Linked DNA regions of Homo sapiens: all the other regions are linked to region 2. The links come from fine-mapping of genetic effects on gene expression. A gene starts in region 2. Each other region holds a variant in brackets. All regions are shown on one strand. Distances are between the middles of the regions. Region 1 has its middle 26 kb from the start of NNAT. Region 2 holds the start of SAMHD1 (SAM and HD domain containing deoxynucleoside triphosphate triphosphohydrolase 1). Region 3 overlaps RPN2 (ribophorin II).

The links. PIP is the estimated chance that this variant, and not a neighbour inherited with it, causes the effect.
Region 1: its variant is the best candidate, but not a certain one, in a credible set for the expression of SAMHD1 in whole blood (TOPMed, PIP 0.50).
Region 3: its variant is the best candidate, but not a certain one, in a credible set for the expression of SAMHD1 in whole blood (TOPMed, PIP 0.50).

Annotation. Positions count from the first base shown.
Region 1 is chr20:37,491,357-37,499,116 of GRCh38, reverse strand. No RefSeq gene overlaps it. Among named protein-coding and RNA genes, the nearest start is that of NNAT, 26 kb to the left of the region's middle. The variant G/A (reference allele first, on the strand shown) is at 3,801.
Region 2 is chr20:36,947,730-36,955,489 of GRCh38, reverse strand. SAMHD1 (SAM and HD domain containing deoxynucleoside triphosphate triphosphohydrolase 1) reads left to right here and starts at 3,782. Exons shown (of 16, transcript NM_015474.4): 1 at 3,782-4,054. The coding sequence starts at 3,847. RefSeq lists a silencer at 4,068-4,287.
Region 3 is chr20:37,232,804-37,237,803 of GRCh38, reverse strand. It overlaps RPN2 (ribophorin II), which reads right to left. Exons shown (of 17, transcript NM_002951.5): 15 at 3,709-3,784; 16 at 1,095-1,224. Among named protein-coding and RNA genes, the nearest start is that of GHRH, 27 kb to the left of the region's middle. The variant G/TCG (reference allele first, on the strand shown) is at 2,519.

The DNA.
Region 1 (7,760 bases), 540 kb before region 2:
GTGATTCACTCACCTCAGCCTCCCAAAGTGCTGGGTTTACAGGCATGAGCCACTGCACCTGGCCTGAGTTTATGGATAAATTTAAGGAAAACTGACATCTTTATCATATAGAGTCTTCCTACCACGGCACATTGCTCTATTCTCAATTCAGGTCATCTTTTACATCTTTCAGGACAGTTTTATGGTTTTCTCTGGTTAAAGTCTGACATATTTCTTGTTGAATTCATTCCTAGGTATATTATAGGTTTTGCTGTTAACTGTGAATAGGTTGCCCTCTGCTCTTATTTGTTTGGCCCTTGTTTTTTCATATCCCATTTCAACCTGTTTACTAATCACTGTGCTTGATTCACAGACACACACAAAGTAAACGTTCTCCCTCTCTGGGCACAAAAATTTGAGCACAGCCAGACGCACAGAGGCAGCATAATTGGCTGAAAACAAATTAGAATCTTTTCAAATTATACTTTAATTAAACAAGTAAAGTGTGCATACATTCTCCTTTTTAAAAGTAGGACAATATGAATATAACTGTAGTCCCCTTTGGCCACCCTCTGGAGTCCTCATTTCCCACCCCCTCCACAGTTTTATGTATCTCCATCCATAGTAACACATAGTCCTGATGTATTTTCAATGAGTCATACCACATTATAGCGATTTTACTATAAGCTGCAGGTTTTTTTCACTCAGTGTTACATTTTTACAATATACTCCTATTGCTACACATAGCTTGCTTTTGCCTTTAATAGCTATGTTGTATTCATTCCCATGAATGTACCACATTTTATCTTCTGTAAGCTCCATGGACATTTAATTGCTTCTTTTTCTTTCCTCCATCATGAGCAGTGCTGCAGAAACCACATTGCATGTTCCTTTGTGGTGGGATATCTCTGGGAGTGATTGGGAAATGGAATGTTGGGTCTTAATATGTCCACAGTTTTAGTTTTAGCAGATACTACCACTGTCCTCCATGATTTCTGTACCATTTAAGCTTCCAGCCAGAGGGTATGAGAGGGCTGTAATCCCCACACCCATAGGCGGTTGTTTTAAATATTTGCCAATCTCATGGGTGAAAAATTGAATCCTTTTTAAAATTTGTATTTTCCTGTTTGCTTGTGAGATTTTCATATGTATATTGAGCATTTGTATTTTCTCTTTTCTGAATTGCCTGTTATTTTTTCTCATTTTAAGCATTAGGTTGTCTTTATCCCACTGGCTTGTGGAGTTTTGTAATATAATCTGGATATTGATCTTTTGTAGATATGTGACAAATATTTTCTTCCAGCTTGTCATTGCCTTTAACTCTTTGTAGAATCTTTTGTTAGAAGTTATTAGTTTTGACATAATCCAATTTATCAATCTTTTCCTTTGATCCTTTTTTATACAGATACCATGTTTAGTCCTTCCCTACTCCTAAGATTTAAATATATTATTTCTTCTTTTCTAATAATTTTATAATTTTGTTTTTATTTGGTTCTTTATGCATCTGGAATATATTTTGATTATCATATTGATATATGATCTAACCTTTCTCCAAACGGGCAGCCAATTATTGCAGTATGAGGGGTTGACTAGTTCTTCCTTTCCCCTCTGACCTGAAGTAAAACTCCCTGATATTCTGAGTCAGGTGTGTCTGAAGCCCCTGTTTTTCCCAACAATCCATTTATTCCTTTCAGTACAAGACTGTTTTCTTTGCTGTCCCACCTTTTGGTATCTGTGAAGTCAAATGCCATGTTTCGTTGTGCTTCCTTCTCAGCTCTCTTAGCTAACTAGTACCGCACACTAACTCCTCCACATGAATTGTAAAGCCAGCTTGTCAAGTTGGAGAAATTGACATCAATACAATACCGAGCCTTTGAATTCATGAATACAGTAGAGCTCTACGTTTATTCTTATTATCTTGTATGTCCTTCACTCATGCACTGTTGTTCTCCCCATAAAGAACTTGCCCATTTCCTAATGGGTTTATTCCTATACTTTTTATTATTGTTGTGAATTAGTTTTCTCCAGCCCCCTTTTTTGTTTTGCTTTTGCTTGCTACATTTCTTTTTCATCTGCTTACTAATCACTCTACTTCATTCACAGGCACACACAAAGTAAATATTCCTCCTCCCTGGGCACAAACATGCAAGCACATCCAAACACACGGAGCCCACGTTATTGGCTGAAAATAAATAGTAATTTTTTAAAAAATTGAAGTCGAATGACACAAGCAAAACATGAATACGTTCCCCTTTTTTAAAAAAGAGAACATTGCAGATGAAGCTGGAGTCCCTTTTGGCCACCCACTGCCACCCTATTCCCTTCCTCCTCTCCAGAGGTAACCACAGTAATGGGCTCAATGTGGACTTTTCTAGACGTTTCTAAAAACTTACATATATAGATACCCAGAGGAAATATATGGTATACTTAAATAATGAAAATGTTATCTTTCTAGTTTTCATTAATATTCAACTTTTGTATTGACCTGAATTTTATTATGGTTGCAGAATAGAATGTCAACATTATCATCTGTCACAATGTGAAAGTAAAGATATAAAAGTTGGGAGGTAGCAGTGAAGGGAAGAGGGTAGGAAGGTTGACAGGGACAATAGTGGGGAGGCAAGAGCTTCTGTGGACATGTGGTAGAATAAGGAATGAAGGGGCAAGTAGGTTTCTTAAAAAGATAACCAACAGAGGTACTTAAAGACTGTGTTAGGAGAGGTAGGGATAGAGGGGAGTAGTTTCCAAGTGACCCAATGCCTAATCCACTGGGACATCAGTGGATCTTATGAACTAGAAATGGGGTGTAGCAGATGCTGTCTAGAGGGCTCCCATGACCCAGTTTTGACTTGGGACTTGTAAGGGGATATCTTCAGGCAGTTTCAGGGAAACACTTTCCTCCCTAATTAAAGAGATGCATGTGGGGCCAGGCACAGTGGCTGTCGCCTTGTAGTCCCAGCACTTTGGGAGGTTGAGGCGGGCAGACTGCTTGAGCCTAGGAGTTCGAGACTAGCCTGGGCAACATTGTGAAGCCCCATCTCTACAAAAAATACAAAAGTTAACCAGGCGTGGTGGCATGCACCTGTGGTCCCAGCTGCTCAAGAGGCTGAGGTGAGGAGATTGCTTTAGCTTGGGAGGTTGAGGCTTCAGTGAGCTACTACCATGCCATTCTACTCCAGCCTGGGTGGCAGAGTGAGACCGTGTCTCGAAAAAAGAAAAGAAAAAGAGGGATGCACTTGGAGAAGTTTCTTGGCTGCCCCCTTTCTTTCTGCCTAGGTGCTGTTGAGTGAAAACATAGTGCTTGGAGCCCTGACAGCTATCTATCTTGTGACCAGGAGGGGAAGGCCAGGAGACTCATGGTTCTCTGTTCACTCAGATCTCAGATACCTGGAACCACTGACTTTTGAACTTTTCATTACTTGAAATAAATGTTCTTGTTGCTTAGCCACTTTTAGGTGATATATTACGTTCTGGTGAAAGCATTCTTCCTAATACAAGCTGAGAGCTTACAGCTAGGAGACAACCTCCAGGAGCAGAGATCACACACTCTCGGGTAAGAGTTTGGGGTTGGGAGAGGGTCCATCCCGAACTTGCTGCTCTTCATCAAAAGCCCTTCTATTCTCTTGGATTAAAAAAAAAAATTCTGATAAGCCAGGCACATCATGCACCTGTATTCCCACCTACCTGGGAGGCTGAGGCAGGAGGATCACTTGAGCCCAGGAGCTCAAGGCTGCAGTGCGCTGTGATTGTGCCTGTGAATAGCCACTGCATTCCAGCCTGGTCAGCAGAACCAGGCACTGTCCCTAAAAACAAACAATTCT[G/A]ATAACAAGTGTGTCAAGATGTGAACAGTGGTTGCCTCTGGGTACATTTGGATACTTTGCAGTTTTCTAAGATGTTGTCAAATGTTCTTAGGAGCTGACACATAAGAGAAGCTAAGTTTTGACTCCAGAAAAGGAAAGGCCCACAGCTGGTGAGACTGCCCAGGTGAAATCCTAGATGGATTCAAGGGGCGTTAGAGCTGGGGATGAGGAGCAAGCTGTGGGTGGATCTCACCTCACCTGATCCTGGAGGGCCAGCAACCTTCCTGGGTTCTTAAGGGAACTGCAGGGAGTCCAGCCGATTTGAGACACACAGGGTTGGGGGCATGGGTGTGGCAGGAGGGAGATCAGTGACAGATCAGGCTGGCTGCACCTGCAGTGCTGCTGTGTCATGACAAGAAGTGAGCTTCTATCCAAGGGTAATGAGGAACCAGTGGCCGTTTTTTCTTTTGTTTTGCTTTTTAATGGACGGAGTCTCACTCTGTTGCCCAGGCTGGAGTGCAGTGGCATGATCTCGGCTCACTGCAATGTCTGCCTCCCAGGTCAGCGATTCTCCTGCCTCAGCCTCCCGAGTAGATGGGATTACAGGCGTGTGCCACCACGCCCAGTTAATTTTTATATTTTTAGTACAGACAGGATTTCACCATGTTGGCCAGGATGGTCTCGAACCCCTGACCTCAGGTGATCTGCCCATCTTGGCCTCTCAAAGTGCTGGGATCACAGGCGTGAGCCACCATGCCTGGCCGTGGCTGTTCTTAAGCAGGGAGACAGGTGTGATCACTTTCATTTAGTTAAGTTTCTTTGCCAGTGGAAGAAGCTCAACTGAAACCAGCTCAGGCACAGAAGGAACTTAATTGGCTTCTATACGCAAACCACAGGCCAAGCTAGGTTCAGTTGACCTTCCGGTCCCCCGGGGCCAGGGACTTAACTGGCAGCCTGCCCCTCTCCCATCTCCATGTCTCCACGTCTCTTTGCCTGCCAGCTCCCTCTCTCAGGGATGCCTCTTCCACACACTGGCGTTCGTGACTGCCAATGTTTCACACCTCTCAGGTTCATGACCACAAAGAGATCGAGGTAGGAGCGCAGGAACTTGGTTAAGCATCAGGGCTACTTGCTTACTCATTGTTTTGTCTAATTTCTCTGTCTTCAGTGTCCTCACATAGGAAATGGGGATAACAACAGCACCAGCTTAATGCTGTGAGGGTCAAAGGAGATGATGTCCATCAAGTACTTACCTCGGGGATGGACACTAAGTGCTCCATACATGTTATGAGCTCTCTCTGTTCCCAAGTCCAGAAATCTAGACAAAAGCTTCCATTGGCCCAGTTGAGTTGGGGTTCACCTCTGGCAAATCAATGATGGCCATTAAAGTGGGTTGTGCAATAAATGAGAAGGTGAATTTCAAAGCAAATAGGTTGGGGTGCAGAATGATTTCCAAGAAGGATTGGCGCAGTTCTAGAAAAAGAACAGAGGTCATCCCTCTGGCTGCCAGCAGAAAAGGGTTTGATCAGGCCCCAACAGCCTGGAGGTAGGGAAGTACCTAAGAGGCACCACAGTTGTCCAGGTGAGAAATAACGCAGGTCTGAGCTAAGCAACAGTGCAGATGGAGAGAAGGCGGAGGCAAGAGAAGTTTTGGAGGTAGAAATAGGGGGCATGGTGCCAAGTGCACGGGAGAGATGAGACAGAATGAAAGGTTGAAGGTGGCCCCAGGTGCTAGCCCAGAAACCTACAAACAGAGCCTCTCCAAAATGTTGCTTCATTACTCAGGTTAACTCTTCCCAACACCACTGCCACTCCATTCTGCTCAGTAGCACAAACTTAGTTGAAGGTAAACCCAGCCACATCTGGACATTTCAAAAGACTATCTTAAGTAGATTCTTGGTCCACTTCCAGCTCCTCTGCTTCCCACTGCTCCTTCTCCTTGTGGGTAGTCAGTGTTCTGGGAGCTTCTATTCTGACCTGGCACCAGGGGCATACAAGTGATTCAGGTCTGCCAGCAACTATCCACTGCCATCCACTGAGCCACAGAATCCCTACTAAATCTTTGTCCTGACCATGAGGCACCTCCAAGTCCACCGGCTACACTCACCCTCTTCTCTACACCCTCACCATCACCACCGTGTTACAAAGACAAACAGGACCCTGGAGGACACCTCCCAGCCACCTTCTCCCACCAGGGGTCCTCAGCCTCTCTCCAGCCCATGCCAGGAGCTTGTGTTCTCTCAGGCAACACCTGAGGAGCCAGGCAACAGTCCCTTCTGCTCTGGGATACCTCAAATTTACTCTGGGAGCTCTAGTATCTACTATGAGCTACATCTCTTTGTGATTCCTTTATTCCCACTAGCTGGTCAAACTTTTATTTCCTTTTAGGCAGAAAAACAGCTTCTGTATTCTTCCCTGTTTACCATTCTGGCATCAATTTCAAGTGCTCAGTCCCTCAAGCTCTTTCCTCTTTACAAAAGCCCGGCTACTGCAACAAAGCATCCTGTCTGCTGTAAGTTTCAAGAGACTCTTTGAAACTACTGACCATCTTTCTCACTGCATTCATGCTGCAACAACCCAAATCCTGCAAAGCTCTGACTGAATCAGGAAAAAGTGACCTTGGTAGCTAGTCTCCAAAGATGGCCACCACCAATACTTGCCTTCCTGCGATATATATCATACTCCTTGTATCAGGAAGAGAAGTGTAATTCCCTCCCCATGAATCTAGGCTGGCCTTAGTGACTTTCTTGGCCAATAGAATATAGCAGAAGGCACATTCTGGGATTTGTAAGACTAGGTCGCAGGAAGCCTTATGGCCTCTGCCAGGCCTCTTGCAATGCTTGGCCTTGGAACACTCCCTCCTACAAGCCAGCTGCCATGCTATGAGAAGTGCAGGTCCTGTGGTAAATCCACATGTGGTCACTCCAGTCAACGGTCTCAGCAAGCCCCCAGCTGACTGTCAACTATGTGAATGAGCCTGCAGATGACTCCAGCCCCAGCTGCCATCTGACTGCAGCTGCATGAAACACTTAAGCAAGAACCACCTTGCTGAGCCCTATCAACCCCGGAACCATGAGGAATAATAAACTGTTTTTGTTTTTGTTGTTGTTGTTTTTGAGACAGGGTCTTTCTGTGTCATCTAGCCGGAGTACAGTGGCACAATCATGGCTCAATGCAGCGTCGGACCTCCTAAGCTCAGGCAATCCTCCCACTTCAGCCTCCCAAGTGGCTGCAACTATAGGCGTGCACCACTACACTTGGCTAATTTTTGTATTTTTGATAGAGATGGGGCTTCCCCATATTGTCCAGCCTGGTCTCAAACTCCTGAGCTCAAGTAATTTGCCTGCCTCGGCCTCCCGAAGTGCTGGGATTACAGGTGTGAGCCACTGCACCTGGCCAATAAATTGTGTTTGTAAGCCACTAATGTTTGGTGTAGTTTGTTGTGCACCAACATGGTGATGGGCAAGGAAGTGTGGTGGGGGGTGGGGAAGCACATCAAATAATATATAAAATATGATCCTACTACACAGCATTTAAATGGACCATCATAGTACAGTATGGTAAGTGCAGTAACGAAACATAAATATGCACAGAACTTTCCAGAAGAGGTGACCATTGGTCTTAGGGTGACTTATCTCCTTAGAGATGAGCAGGAATGAGCAAGCTAGAAGGAACTGGAAAGACCTTTTAAACAGAGGGAACAGCACAAGCATAGCCTTGGGAATGAGGAGCAGCAGGAGTGAGCTGGAGGGTATTTGGTGTTCCTGGACTATGACAAAAGAAGGAGGGGATGGGAAGAGCAAGATGAAGTGGACAGAGACCAGACCCTGCAGAGCCTTGGATGCCCCCATGTCAAGGAGTTTGGACACTGTCCTGCAGTCACTGGGCACTGTTGAAAGTTTTTACACTAGAGTGATGCATTCAGATTTGTTATTTGGGAAGACCACTGAGATGGTCAGTGTGAAGACTATATTTGGAAGA
Region 2 (7,760 bases):
GAAGCTGTGAAGAGATGTAAAAACCACAGGTGAATGCTGCCAGAAATAAAATTGCCCAGCTTGCCTGGCTGGGTGGAAGGTAAATAGATAAGGTCAGGGAAAGCTTGCTGGGCTTATTCAAGGTCATTGGGCAGTGGGCCTTAAATTAATTGATCTTATTGTTTTTTCTAGTCCTAACCATACTGAGATTGACTTTAGAAGAGGGCAGCTTGAGCAGTCATTTCTCTCACTATGGCCAGAGTCCAGGGCCTGTGTCCAGTGGGTGTTGGTTCCCAGGCTGTGGAATTATGATGGAAAAGGATCGTTAGGACTGTAAGAGGAGTTAAATGAAGTGGCAAACTGGAAAGAGCCTATACTTTGGAGCGAGGGAGCACTGCCTTTGAATCCTCTCTCTGTCCCTTACCAGCCATGTTGACCCTGAACAAGTAACTAATGACCTAGCGCAAGATCAAAGGCCCCTTGAAAGTAGGGAATTAGGGAAAATATAATAAGTATGGCAATAAATTATACTTTTTAACAAACAAAAACAGAAAATAAAAGTTCTGGATGGGTGCGGTGGCTCATGCCTGTAATCTGAGCACTTTGGGAGGCCAAGGCACTTGAGGTCAGGAGTTCACTGATCACTTGAGGTCAGGAGTTCAAAGCCAGCCTGGCCAACATGGTGAAACCCCGTCTCTACTAAAAATACAAAAAAATTAGTTGGGCGTCGTGGCGGGTGCCTATAATCCCAGCTACTCAGGAGGCTGAGGCAGGAGAATCGCTTGAACCCGGGAGGCAGAGGTTTGCAGTGAGCCCAGATTGCACCACTGCACTCCACCCTGGGCCACAGAGCAAGACTCTGTCTCAAAAAAAATTAAAATTAAAATTAAAATAAAAAAATGAAATTAAAAAACTAAAAATTCTTAAAAGCAGCTGCTTTGAACAAACACAGTTGATTAAACTAAAAACCCTGCTATAACACCTTCTATTGTCCAGGAAACCTTGATGTCAGGGCAGGTTTCCCCACAGGTCTTATAAACACAAGTTTTTAAATCAGCCATTTCTGACTTGAGATTAAGTCTTTCATACATATGCTATTTGTTTTCTTATCCCGTTTTGGTTTCGCAAGTCTTGGCAACTGTCAGGTCTTTTCACAAAGTTCTCTAGTGTTTGAGGGCATTTTTTTGGGGGGCCTGGCCTTGTGTGCAGATGGAAAACAACTCTTTTTTTTTTTTTTTTTTTGAGATAGAGTTTCACTTTTGTCTCCCAGGCTATGGCTCACTTCAACCTCCACCTCCCAGGTTCAAGCGATTCTCCTGCCTCAGCCTCCTGAGTAGCTGGGATTACAGGCGGCTGCCACCACGCCCGGCTAATTTTTTTTTTTTTTTTTTTGAGACGGAGTCTCGCTCTGTTGCCCAGGCTGGAGTGCAGTGGCGCGATCCAAGCTCACTGCAACCTCCGCCTCCCAGGTTCAAGCAATTCTCTGCCTCAGCCTCTCAAGTAGCTGGGATTACAGGTGCCTGCTACGATGCCCAGCTAATTGTTTTGTATTTTTAGTAGAGACGGGTTTCATCATGTTGGCCAGACTAGTCTTGAACTCCTGACCTTGTGATCCACCCGCCTCGGCCTCCCAAAGTGCTGGGATTACAGGTGACAGCTACTGCGCCTGGCCACCCAGCTAATTTTTGTAATTTTAGTAGAGACAGGGTTTTGCCATGTTGGCCAGGCTGGTCTCGAACTCCTGACCTCAGGTGATCCACCCGCCTCGGCCTCCCAAAGTGCTGGGATTACAGACGTGAGCCACTGCGCCTGGCAGGAACACCTTTATACTTTCCTCCATGGGTCTGCAGGAAAAGGGAGCCATTGAAAATTGTGGGTTAAATAATAGAAAATAGTTTTATATCAAAACCCCCTTTACTTATTTATTTATTTTTTATTATTATTATTTTTGAAACAGAGTCTTGCTCTGTTGCCCAGGCTGGAGTGCAACGGGAAGATCTTGGCTCACTGCAACCTACACCTCCCACATTTGAGTGATTCTCGTGCCCCCGCCTCCTGAGTAGCTGGGATTACAGGCATGCACCACCAGGCCTGGCTAATTTTTGTATTTTAGTAGAGATGGGGTTTCACCATGTTGGCCAGGTTGGCCTTGAACTCCTGGCCTCAAGTGAGTGCTCTGGCCTCCCAAAGTGCTGGGATTACAGGCATGAGCCACTGCACCCAGCCCCAAACCCCCTTTAACAAGCAGTGGTTGGCAAGTTATCAAGACCATGGACTTTGGAACCAAGTTACATCTCTTGGGTTTGAATACAGGCTTCATCATTTCCTAGCTGTAAGACCTTGGGCAGCTGGGTACGGCTGTGTAATCCCAGCACTTTGGGAGGCTGAGGTGTGGGAATCACCTGAGGTCAGGAGTTCAAGACCAGCCTGGCCAACATGGTGAAATCCTGTCTCTACTAAAAATACAAAAATTAGCCAGGTGTGGTGGCAGGCGCCTGTAGTCCCAGCTACTTGGGAGTCTGAGGCATGAGAATCACTTGAACCTGGGAGGCAGAGGTTGCAGTGAGCTGAGATCACGCCACTGCACTCCAGCTTGGGAAACAGAGCAAGACTCCGTCTCAAAAAAAAAAAAGAAGACCTGCGGCAAATTACTTTTTCCTACATCCTAAGGTAATTGTGATAATTAAGTGAAGTAATATGTGTAGAGCCCTTAGAACTTTACAATATTTGTAAAACCCTTAGAAGTTATAAAAATTATTTAATATTTAAATAATTTAATGAATGTACTTAATTCATTTAGTATTATGTATAAATATAAAATTATTTTATATTTGTAAAGCCCTTAGAACCGTGCCTGGCACACAGTAAAGCTCTGTTTGCAAATAATATTTTGGCTCACCAGTAGACCACTAGTTCATACTGCTTGATGATAAGCTATTCCGCCTCATTCGTCCTTGACCCCCTAAACAGGTCTATGCCTTGGTTGCTGGGAAGGTGTGTTGGCTTTATTAACAGTAATAGTGATATGTCCTTTTACCAGGCAATTGCATGGACCAGTATTTATAGGGAAGTTTGAGCCCTGCCGCAGAGGGGTTAAGTGATGGGAAAATGCCTGCCATTTTCACATGCTGTTACAACCAGGCAGTAAAAGTCCTCAGAAGTTAAATTTTAAGTAATCAGACTGGCCACTTTCCTTCCTCTGGGAATGCAGTTGGGATGGAGGGCTCTGTCTCTAGTTGGAAAGAAGTCTGAAGTCCCCTCCTGTGTGGACACCAGACAACAGGTATCCCAGGGCCCTCTAGTTGACCAGCAATACTGTGGAATGAAGACACCCTCAAGTCACATTTGAAATCATTCCGGGTTCTTCCAGTTCAGCACCTTGACTGTTTTCCTCTTCACTGGGAAGGTGCTGGCAGCCTGACGGCCTTTTAGGCTTCTTTTAAGTTTGGGGCATCTGAAACCCGGCCAAGGTGCGGCGGGTAGTGTACTCATTCGAAGGAGAATACCCCCAATTCACTAGACGAGCCCCTAATTGGGGGTGCGGTGCCGGGCGCGCTCTTTCCTCCCCCTTTCCACCAGCACTGCCCTCAGTTCTGCTTCTAGCCACGCCCTTTCGCGTTCACGTCCAGCGCCCTGGCGGGATTGATTTGAGGACGACTGGACTGCCATTGCGCCTGCGCAGGGAGCCCAAGGCAAGAGCCGCTAGGCTGCCCTGCCCGAAGGGCTCAACTGTCAGTGAGCCTGCGCAGGAGGCCAATAGGCTGCCAATACTCCTTGGACTCCCCGCCAGGGCCCTGCTGTCAGTGCGCCTGCGCGCGGGTCCGGCGCCGAGGTTCTTGACTGCTGTGCCGGACGCCAGGTGTAGCCATGCAGCGAGCCGATTCCGAGCAGCCCTCCAAGCGTCCCCGTTGCGATGACAGCCCGAGAACCCCCTCAAACACCCCTTCCGCAGAGGCAGACTGGTCCCCGGGCCTGGAACTCCATCCCGACTACAAGACATGGGGTCCGGAGCAGGTGTGCTCCTTCCTCAGGCGCGGTGGCTTTGAAGAGCCGGTGCTGCTGAAGAACATCCGAGGTAGCGGCTCCGGAGGGGCTGAGGGGCGAAGGGCGGCGACCTGGGGCGCGGGCCAGGCGCCCTGAGGGAGGGGGCCCCACGAGAGGACCGAGGCCGAGGAGCGAGCCCTGCGGCGGGAGGCACCCGGGAGGGCGGACCTGCGCTGGGGGCGCCGAGGAAAGGAAGACCCGAGGCGGGGGAGGGAGCCCTGCGGCGGGGGTTCCCAGGAGGGCCTGCGGCATGGGGCTCCCGGGACTGACTCCCCGAGGCGGAGGAAGAAGACATGGGGTCGCCTGGGATAGGCGATTCGTAGGATGGGAGCAGGCTCCCGGGATTGAGGACCTGGGAGGGGCAGTCGTAGATTGGGATCTCACTCTCGTGGGTTTCTTCACTAACTTGCCACCCCGGCGCGGGACAAGCGAGACTCGGGTCCCTTTTTTTTAGTTAGAAGGAGATTTTTCCCCAGACCTTGGTGGGCGGCTTGCTGTCATCCAGGCTCGCGGGACCCCTCCGCGCTAACCGCAGCTCCTTGAACACTTGCCACATCAGAGGATGTTCTGGGGCTTTTAGGTTTCGGTTTCCTCCCTGAATTGAGGCTTTTCCTGAAGGGGAAGGAACTGGCTTGGTTAATCTCTGAATTCCCATCACCTTCCTTGGCATCCCAGCAGCGCCCGATAGGCGTGTGTTGACTGCACTTGCAGAACATGGTAAGGAACATGTTTTGCTCTTTAAAAGCAGGTTCCCCTCCAAAATCTGAACCTTGGGGTTGTTCAGTTGACCACTGAATCCCCAGCATGCCACAGTTTGGCCACATCCCCTGGAGAAGTGTTTAGGTTGAGTTTTAATCATATTTTACTGATTCGTATCCAAGCATCCATCCTTGTGAATTCTACTCAACTTTTTGTGGTGGGTGTGAGATTTGACTCCTGCCTTATATCCTCTAGGTGTCCAATAGGAAGGTGATTCTTTGGTGGTTGGGATTTGCAAATTTAGTAAATTTTTGCATTTGTTAGGTGGGGCCCTGTTTGGCTAGGTTGGAAACTGGGGTAGGAGGAACATTAGTGGTTCAGGACCCAAAGATAGCTTGAATGGGTATGGGAAATTGCATTTCTCCTTTTTTTTTTTTCTTCCCCCTTTTGCCCTTTCGTTTCCCTCCACTGCTGGGATGGATTATTACTTTATTTTCTTTGACTAGCAACAAGTGGAGTGAAGTAGTTCCATATTTTCTGTCTCAAAATGTGGTTGGCTCTCTGTTTCAGTGGTTTGTAGATTAACTCGTTACCCTCCAGAATGATGTGTGTTCCTTAAACCTACAACCTATTGCTATCAAAGACACTATGTGCTTTCATTTGGTAAAAACTGACCAACTGTTCCCAATTGCTCATGTCTTAGCTTCTGCTTTGTCTTGACCAAACTTTATTCGGACTTCTCTCTTCCCTTATGGGCCCCTCAACTCTTGCTTACCCCCAGATCTGACCAGGCAGGCACTAAAGCAGTGGAATATGCCTCCCTCTGGTCAGTTTCTTTTGAGAACCGGCTGACCACAGTAGGATGCTGTCCTGTTGGGCTACACTGCTCATTTTCCCTTGCTCGTCCAGGTTCCTATCCAAAGATTCTGCTTATTTCTGCTTGCCCGTCCTTTATCATATAAAAGAAGACCCTTTTTCTGTTGGATTCTTTTTTTTTTTTTTTTTTTTTTTTGAGACAGAGTCTCGCTCTGTCGCCAGGCTGGAGTGCAGTGGCGCCATCTCGGCCCAGTGCAACCTCTAACTGCCTGGTTCAAGCTATTCTCCTGCCTCAGCCTCCCGAGTAGCTGGGATTACAGGCATGTGCCACCACGCCCAGCTAATTTTTTTGTATTTTTAGTAGAGATGGGGTTTCACCATGTTGGCCAGGATGGTCTCCATCTCCTGAACTCGTGATCCGCCTGCCTCAGCCTCCCAAAGTGCTGGGATTACAGGCGTGAGCCACCGCGCCCGGCCTCATTTTTTTTTTTTTTTTAATTAGAGACAGGGTTTTGCCATGTTGGCCAGGCTGGTCTCAAACTCTTGGCTTCGAGTGACCATCCACCCACCTCGGCCTCCTAAAGTGCTGGGATTACAAGTGTGAGCCACCATGCCCAACCTCTGTTTGGTTCTTGGGCCTCTGTTTGATTATTTTTTAAAATTTATTTTATTATTTTATTTTTTTTCTGAGATGGAGTCTCGCTCTGTCACGCAGGCTGAAGTGCACCGGCACAATCTCAGCTCACTGCAACCTCTGCCTCTCGGGTTCAAGTGGTTCTCCTGCCTCAGCCTCCCTAGTTGCTGGGATTACAGGTGCACGCCACCACGCCTGGCTAATTTTGTGTTTTTAGTAAAGACAGGGTTTCACCATGTTGGCCAGGCTGGTCTCCAACTCCTGTCCTCAGGTGATGCATCCGCCTCTGCCTCCCAAAGTGCTGGGATTACAGGCGTGAGCCACCGCGCCCGGCCGGCCTATGTGTTTGATTCCTGAGCCTCTTGCAGATATCTGATATTGGAGCTTTCTCCCTGTAGAAATAGTCTTTCTTCTTTTCTTTTCTTTTTTTCTTTTCTTTTTTTTTTTTTTTTGAGACAGAGTCTCGCTCTGTCGCCAGGCTGAAATGCAGTGGTGTGATCTCGGCTCACTGTAACCTCTGCCTCCCGGGTTCAAGCAATTCTCCTGCCTCAGCCTCCTGAGTAGCTGTGACTACAGGTGCCCACCACCACACCTGGCTAATTTTTGTATTTTTAGTAGAGATGGGGTTTCACCATGTTGGCCAGGATGGTCTTAATCTCTTGACCTGATGATTCACACGCCTTGGCCTCCCAAAGTGCTGGGATTACAGGTGTGAGCCACCACGCCCGACCAGCAATAGTCTTTCTTTCTAATAAAGTTTCTCTTGGCCGGGCACGGTGGCTCACGCCTGTAATCCCAGCACTTTGGAAGGCCGAAGCAGGTAGATCACCTGAGGTCAGGAATTCAAGCCCAGCCTGGCCAACATGGTGAAACACCGTCTCTACTAAAAATACAAAAATTAGCCGGGCATGGTGGTATGTGCCTGTAGTCCCAGCTACTTGGGAAGCTGAGGCAGGAGAATCACTTGAACCTGGGAGGCGGAGGTTGCAGTGAGCCAAGATCCCGCCACTGCACTCCAGCCTGGGCGACCGAGTGAGACTCCATCTCGGAAAAGAAAAAAAAAGTCTCTCTTTATCTAAGTCCATTTTTTTTTTAATTTGATAAGCCAAGCACAAGGTACAGTGTCCCTTTTCTCATTATGGAATACAGCCTCACAAGAAGTCTGAAATAAGTTACTACACTCAACACATTTTACCGATGATGTATGCGAGGTCCAAAGATGTAAAGTAACTTTTCAGAGATCACACCACTACAAAAAAGAGCTAGATTTTTTAAGGTTAGGTCTTTGGACTCTAGAACTCATGTGATCTATACCTTAACAAGTATTCTCATCAAAAACCACTGGAGGCCTGGCCCAGTGGCTCATACCTATAATCCCAGCACTTTGGGAGGCCAGTGTGGGAAGATCACTTGAGCCCAAGAATTCAAGACCAGCCTGGGCAACATCAGGAGACCTCAACTTTACAAAAAATAAAAATAAAAATTAGCTAGGTGCAGTGGCACATGCCTGTGGTCCCAGCTACTCAGGAGGCTGAGGCAGGAGGATCGCTTGAGCCCAGGAGGTCAAGGCTGCAGTGAGATGTGATCG
Region 3 (5,000 bases), 280 kb before region 2:
TGCTTTGCAAAAGCAACTGAGTCCTGGCTCTTTCTCAGGTACAATGCAGAACCACCAGGAAAAGGCTACTGGAGGGTGGCAAAATGAACCAGCTGCCACTGCTGGTGCTAAGGGAAGCTCTGGTGGGCCCTGGATTCCTACAGGAAAGCCAAGGAACACGTCTGTGCCGAGTCTCCATGGTGAAATGCTCAGAAAGCTCACAATGGAGACTCGGGCGGAGATGAGACATCTTCTCCCACCCACTGATGGTCTCCCTGAAAAAGCCTCTCTCTGATCCCAGCACCCTAACTGGCAGCCACGTTGAGGGTACACTATTGAGTTACATTCTTCCAGCAAACGTCCTGGATAGAAGAAAGCGGCACATCTGAAAACGATTTCCAGAGGTGAAAGCAATTCTGTTCTTACTGGCCTTTGCGTGTCTGAAATCACTCAGGTTCTAATAAAGTCAAATCAATGAGAAACACCTTTGTGACATTTAAATTTGCCTCCAATTCTGTTTAGAAAGTCAAGCTGCCAGCAAGCTGCCCTCATGTCAAGGTCTGTCTGACCATCCATGTGACTCTAAGGTTGTCTGGGTCCCGGGGAGATGGTGTAGGCTACTGAGGAGATACTCCTTGCTGGGAGCCTCTGCAAAACCTGCTGCAGCTTCTGTGGGAAATAACACAGACCTCGTGCTTCCGGGACAAGCTCCTGGAGCTGTGAGGGTTACAGAGGAGCAGCTCTCGGGGACATGTTGAGGGTGGGGAGGGCAGGGCAGGATTCTCTGTAGCAGCAGAGAATTTTTACACAGCTAACAAATTAATCTTCTGCCACATCTATGAATGCATTTTCATCTTCATAAAGCTAATAATTTTCCTCTCTCATTCTATTGTATTGGGGCATCAATTACAATGGTTGTAATACATTCAAAGCTGACCACTAAGGCTCTTTTCTGACTTCAAAGTGCTTCTGGCTTCTGTACTGGGCTAGATTAGGGTGTCAGACTTGCCCCTAAGAACACAAATCATTTTGCCACCTACCCTTCAAAGAGCTAGGCCGGCAGAGCTGAGTATTTCTAACCCTACTCTAGATCCCTGGCTCATGTCTGGCCTTACCTCTTGACTGCCTGCTGGGCCAGCATCCGATTGCCAGCCAGAAACGTCACACTGCCCAGGATGGCCAGGTACTTCAAGGTCTGGAACATGTTGAGCTGAGTCCAGTAGACATACATGAGTCCCAGCATAGCTGCAAGAAGAGGTGTCATGACATCCAATTAAATGAAACATAATGATGCCCTGCGGTTGAGGAAAGTTAGACATAGCAACTGTTGGATCATGAAAAGGTCTGTACTCCTATACCAGCTTGTTTTATTCCTTTGCTCTGATGCCAAAAAGTAGCTAACTCAATATATTCGCCTCTCAGCTGTGGCCAAGTGTGTGGCCAGGCACAGTGGCTCACACCTGTAATCCCAACATTTTGGGAGGCTGAGGCAGGAGGATTGCTCAGGAGTTCGAGACCACCCTGGGCAACACAGTGAGACCTCGTGTCTATTAAAATTCAAAAAATTAGTCAGGCGTAATGGTCCATGTCTGTAGTCCTAGCTACTTAGGAGGCTGAGGTAGGAAGATCGCTTGAGCCTGGGAGGTCAAGGATGCAGTGAGCTTGATCACACCACTGTACTTCAGCCTGGGTGACAGTGATACCTCGTCTCAAAACACACACACACCCACAAACAGGGGTAACAATTGGACTTCAGCGACCTGTGCCATGTTCCTGCTTACAACTATTTCTCTGCTTTTGTTTAAAACTCCTCTGTCATGTTATACTTGGCATTCATTTTTCAAATTCTTAACAAAAATACACAGGATATAAATAGGCTGGGTGCGGGAGCTCACACCTGTAATCCCAGCACTTTGGGAGGCCGAGGCAGAAGGATCACTTGAGGTCAGGCATTCGAGACCACCCTGGCCAACATGGTGAAACCCTCTCTCTACTAAAAATATAAAATTAGCCAGGTGTGGTGGCGCAGGCCTATAATCCCAGCTACTTGGGAGGCTGAGGTGGGAGAATCGCCTGAACCTGGGAGGCAGAGGCTGCAGTGAGCCAAGATCGCACCGTTGCACTCCAGCCTGGGCGAGACAGAGCAAGACTCCATCTCAAAAAAATAAAAAATAAAAATAAAAAATAAACAGGATATAAATAAATGAATAATTTCTTTTTTTATGGGGGGAAACAAACTGTAAGGATAATTTGCCACTGTGACTAGGAAGGGAGCAAGGAGGACTCAGGAAGAAGGCTGAGTGAAAAGGGCTCAGAGCTGGGAACGGAGAGCCCTGGGGCCTGGTCCAGGCCCTGCCCTTACCAGCCACTTAACTTCTCTGAGCCCAGATTCTCCCACCTTGTCAAAAGGGATCATAATTCCTGCCCCAGTCACCCTCATCAGGGCTATGATGATAATCAAATGAGAAAACGTGCACAAAAAGCACAATGGCAGGAAAAGCCACGGCTCTCAACAGATTTATATTCAGGTTTTCTTCTC[G/TCG]GTCTGACCCCAGAGGGCTATCATACATATCCAGGAACTGAGCCAGAGAGAAAGGTCATCCTGTCAGTTTTGCCCAGACAGATGACGGATGAACTACAGCGGGGCTCTTAACCACTTCTGAGGTCACGGACCACTGCACCATAATAATCTGATCAAAGTCACAACTCTCTCTTTCCCCAGAAAAATACAGACATTTGCCTAGAATTTCAAGAGACTTATCTATGCACCCCTACAGAATCTGTTTACTATGGGCGCACAGATAGTGACTCCTGAAAGAGGCAAAGAATTTTAAAAATATTAAGGTCAGGCCAGGCGTGGTGGCTCACACCTATAATCCTAGCACTCTGGGAGGCCAAAGGCGGGAAGACTGCTTGAGCCTAGGAGTTCAAGACCAGCTCTGAACACAGCAAGACCCCGTCTCTACAAAAAATACAAATACTAGCTAAATGTGGTGACACAAGCCTGGAGTCCCAGCTGCTCTGGAGGCTGAGGTGGGAGGATCACCTGAGTCTGGGAGGTCAAGGCTGCAGTGAGCCATGAATGCACCACTGCACTCCAGCCTGGGTGACAGAGTAAGACCCTGTCTCAAAAAAAAAAAAACAACGAACAAAAAATTAAAGTCACAGTGAAATGCAAGGCACCCCTGATCCAATAGCATCAAAAGCCTCAGAAATGCTTAAGTGATTTGTGAATTTACTGTCTTGTTATGTTTAGGCTGTTGAAGTCCTAAGGTCTCCAGAGAACGATGCAGGATAGCATGTCTGACTGTGGAAAGGACTGTTTTCTATTACTACACAGACAGAGCCGGCAGCAAATGTGAAGATCGATAGCGTGGGGAAAGATAACCTTTGGAAACTGCATTAATGCTCTTCATCCAGGAAGATTGCTCAATGTAAAGATACGATAAGTGAGTAATCTCTGGAAATAAACAGGGTTATTAACTGAGGGTAAATGGTCTGCCAACAGTGGCACAGTACAACAAAGCCCAATATAATGACAGCTGTTCTAAGTGATGGACCAAACAGGTTTATCTTCGTATTAACTGTCCTAAAAGGCCAGGAGGAAGAGGGAAATGTAATGCTATTAAGTCATTATAGGTAATAGGTTGTGGGTCTACTTAACAGGGCTTTTGCGTGGGCAGGCTAAATGTCAGAGGACGTTACAGGTAATTAGCAGCCTGGGGCACTTACCAGCATGTCCCAGGTGAAATATAATCGTGCTAGGAGCAAAAGTGAAGTTGGAGACATTGGCACCAATCCGGATCCACTGAATGATGGGGAGAAATAAATTAAAAAGGCATTAGAACTTAAAAGGGAAGCAACACAAGCCATGCCAATGCTAATCCCATCAACAGCCCCAAGGCTTCAAAGTTCATGCATCCTAGAAGGACAGGCAATTCTTCCAAGTGACAACCACCCTATTATAAGCCCTCGGGGAAACTTGTTCCCTTTTTCTTTAGAAAGGCATTCAGCACCTGCTCTCAAATGGGCTCGTGTAACTCAAACCTGAACATCATTTTTAATGATGACAAACCCTACTATTTTAAAACAGGTGAGACCATGAAGCTGAAAGGTCAGAAACTGCATTTATAAGGTAACTGACACCCCCACTAAGTTCTCTAAGAATTGGTAAGATAAACCCACCGGCAGCTGGTGGCATTCACGCTCTTGCCGTGGGTTCCATGTCATTTGAAATTCTCATCACTGAAATGTAAGGACAGGTGCCCATACCCTAGGTCTGGTTTCTGAAAACCTGTAGCAAGGCTTCTAGATTTATCTAGATTTAAACAGTAATTCTTTTGTTAAAAGCAACAATTAGGAACACAGGCAACTTTCCAAAAGTAAGATCTAATGAGTGTTTTCTCAAAATTCTCTGAGCTTTGAGGATATGCATTCATGTTTGTTTATAATTTGAAAAAAGAGAAAAACACAATTGGCTAAAAAAAAAAATTCAAATGGTACTGAAAAGGAGAAAAGGTAAAAGTTACTTCCTCTACATTCTCCAGAATGTCCACTCCTCAGAGATGACCAACACTAACACATATCGCCTTTTAAAACTTATTTTTATTTTTTTTTTAGACAGGGTCTCACTCTGTCACCCAGGTTAGAATGCATGGCTCACTGCAGACTTGACTTCCTGGGCTCATGTGATCTTCCCACCTCAGCTCCTCAAGTAGCCGGGACTACAGGCATACGTCACCATTAATTTTTTTTTTTCTAATTTTCTGATTTTAGTAGAGATGGGGTCTTGCTATGTTGCCCAGGCTGATCTCAAACACCTGAGCTTCAAGCAATCCTCCCACCTCGGCCTCCCAAAGTGCTGGGATTACAGGCATGAGCCACCACACCCAGCCACCTTTTAAAACTTTACAGAGGATCATACTAAACACACTACCCTACCCCTTGCCTTTTTCACTCAGTAACACATCTTGGCAATCTTGTCCTATCAGCATATAAATCTATCCATTCTTTGAAAAGCTGCA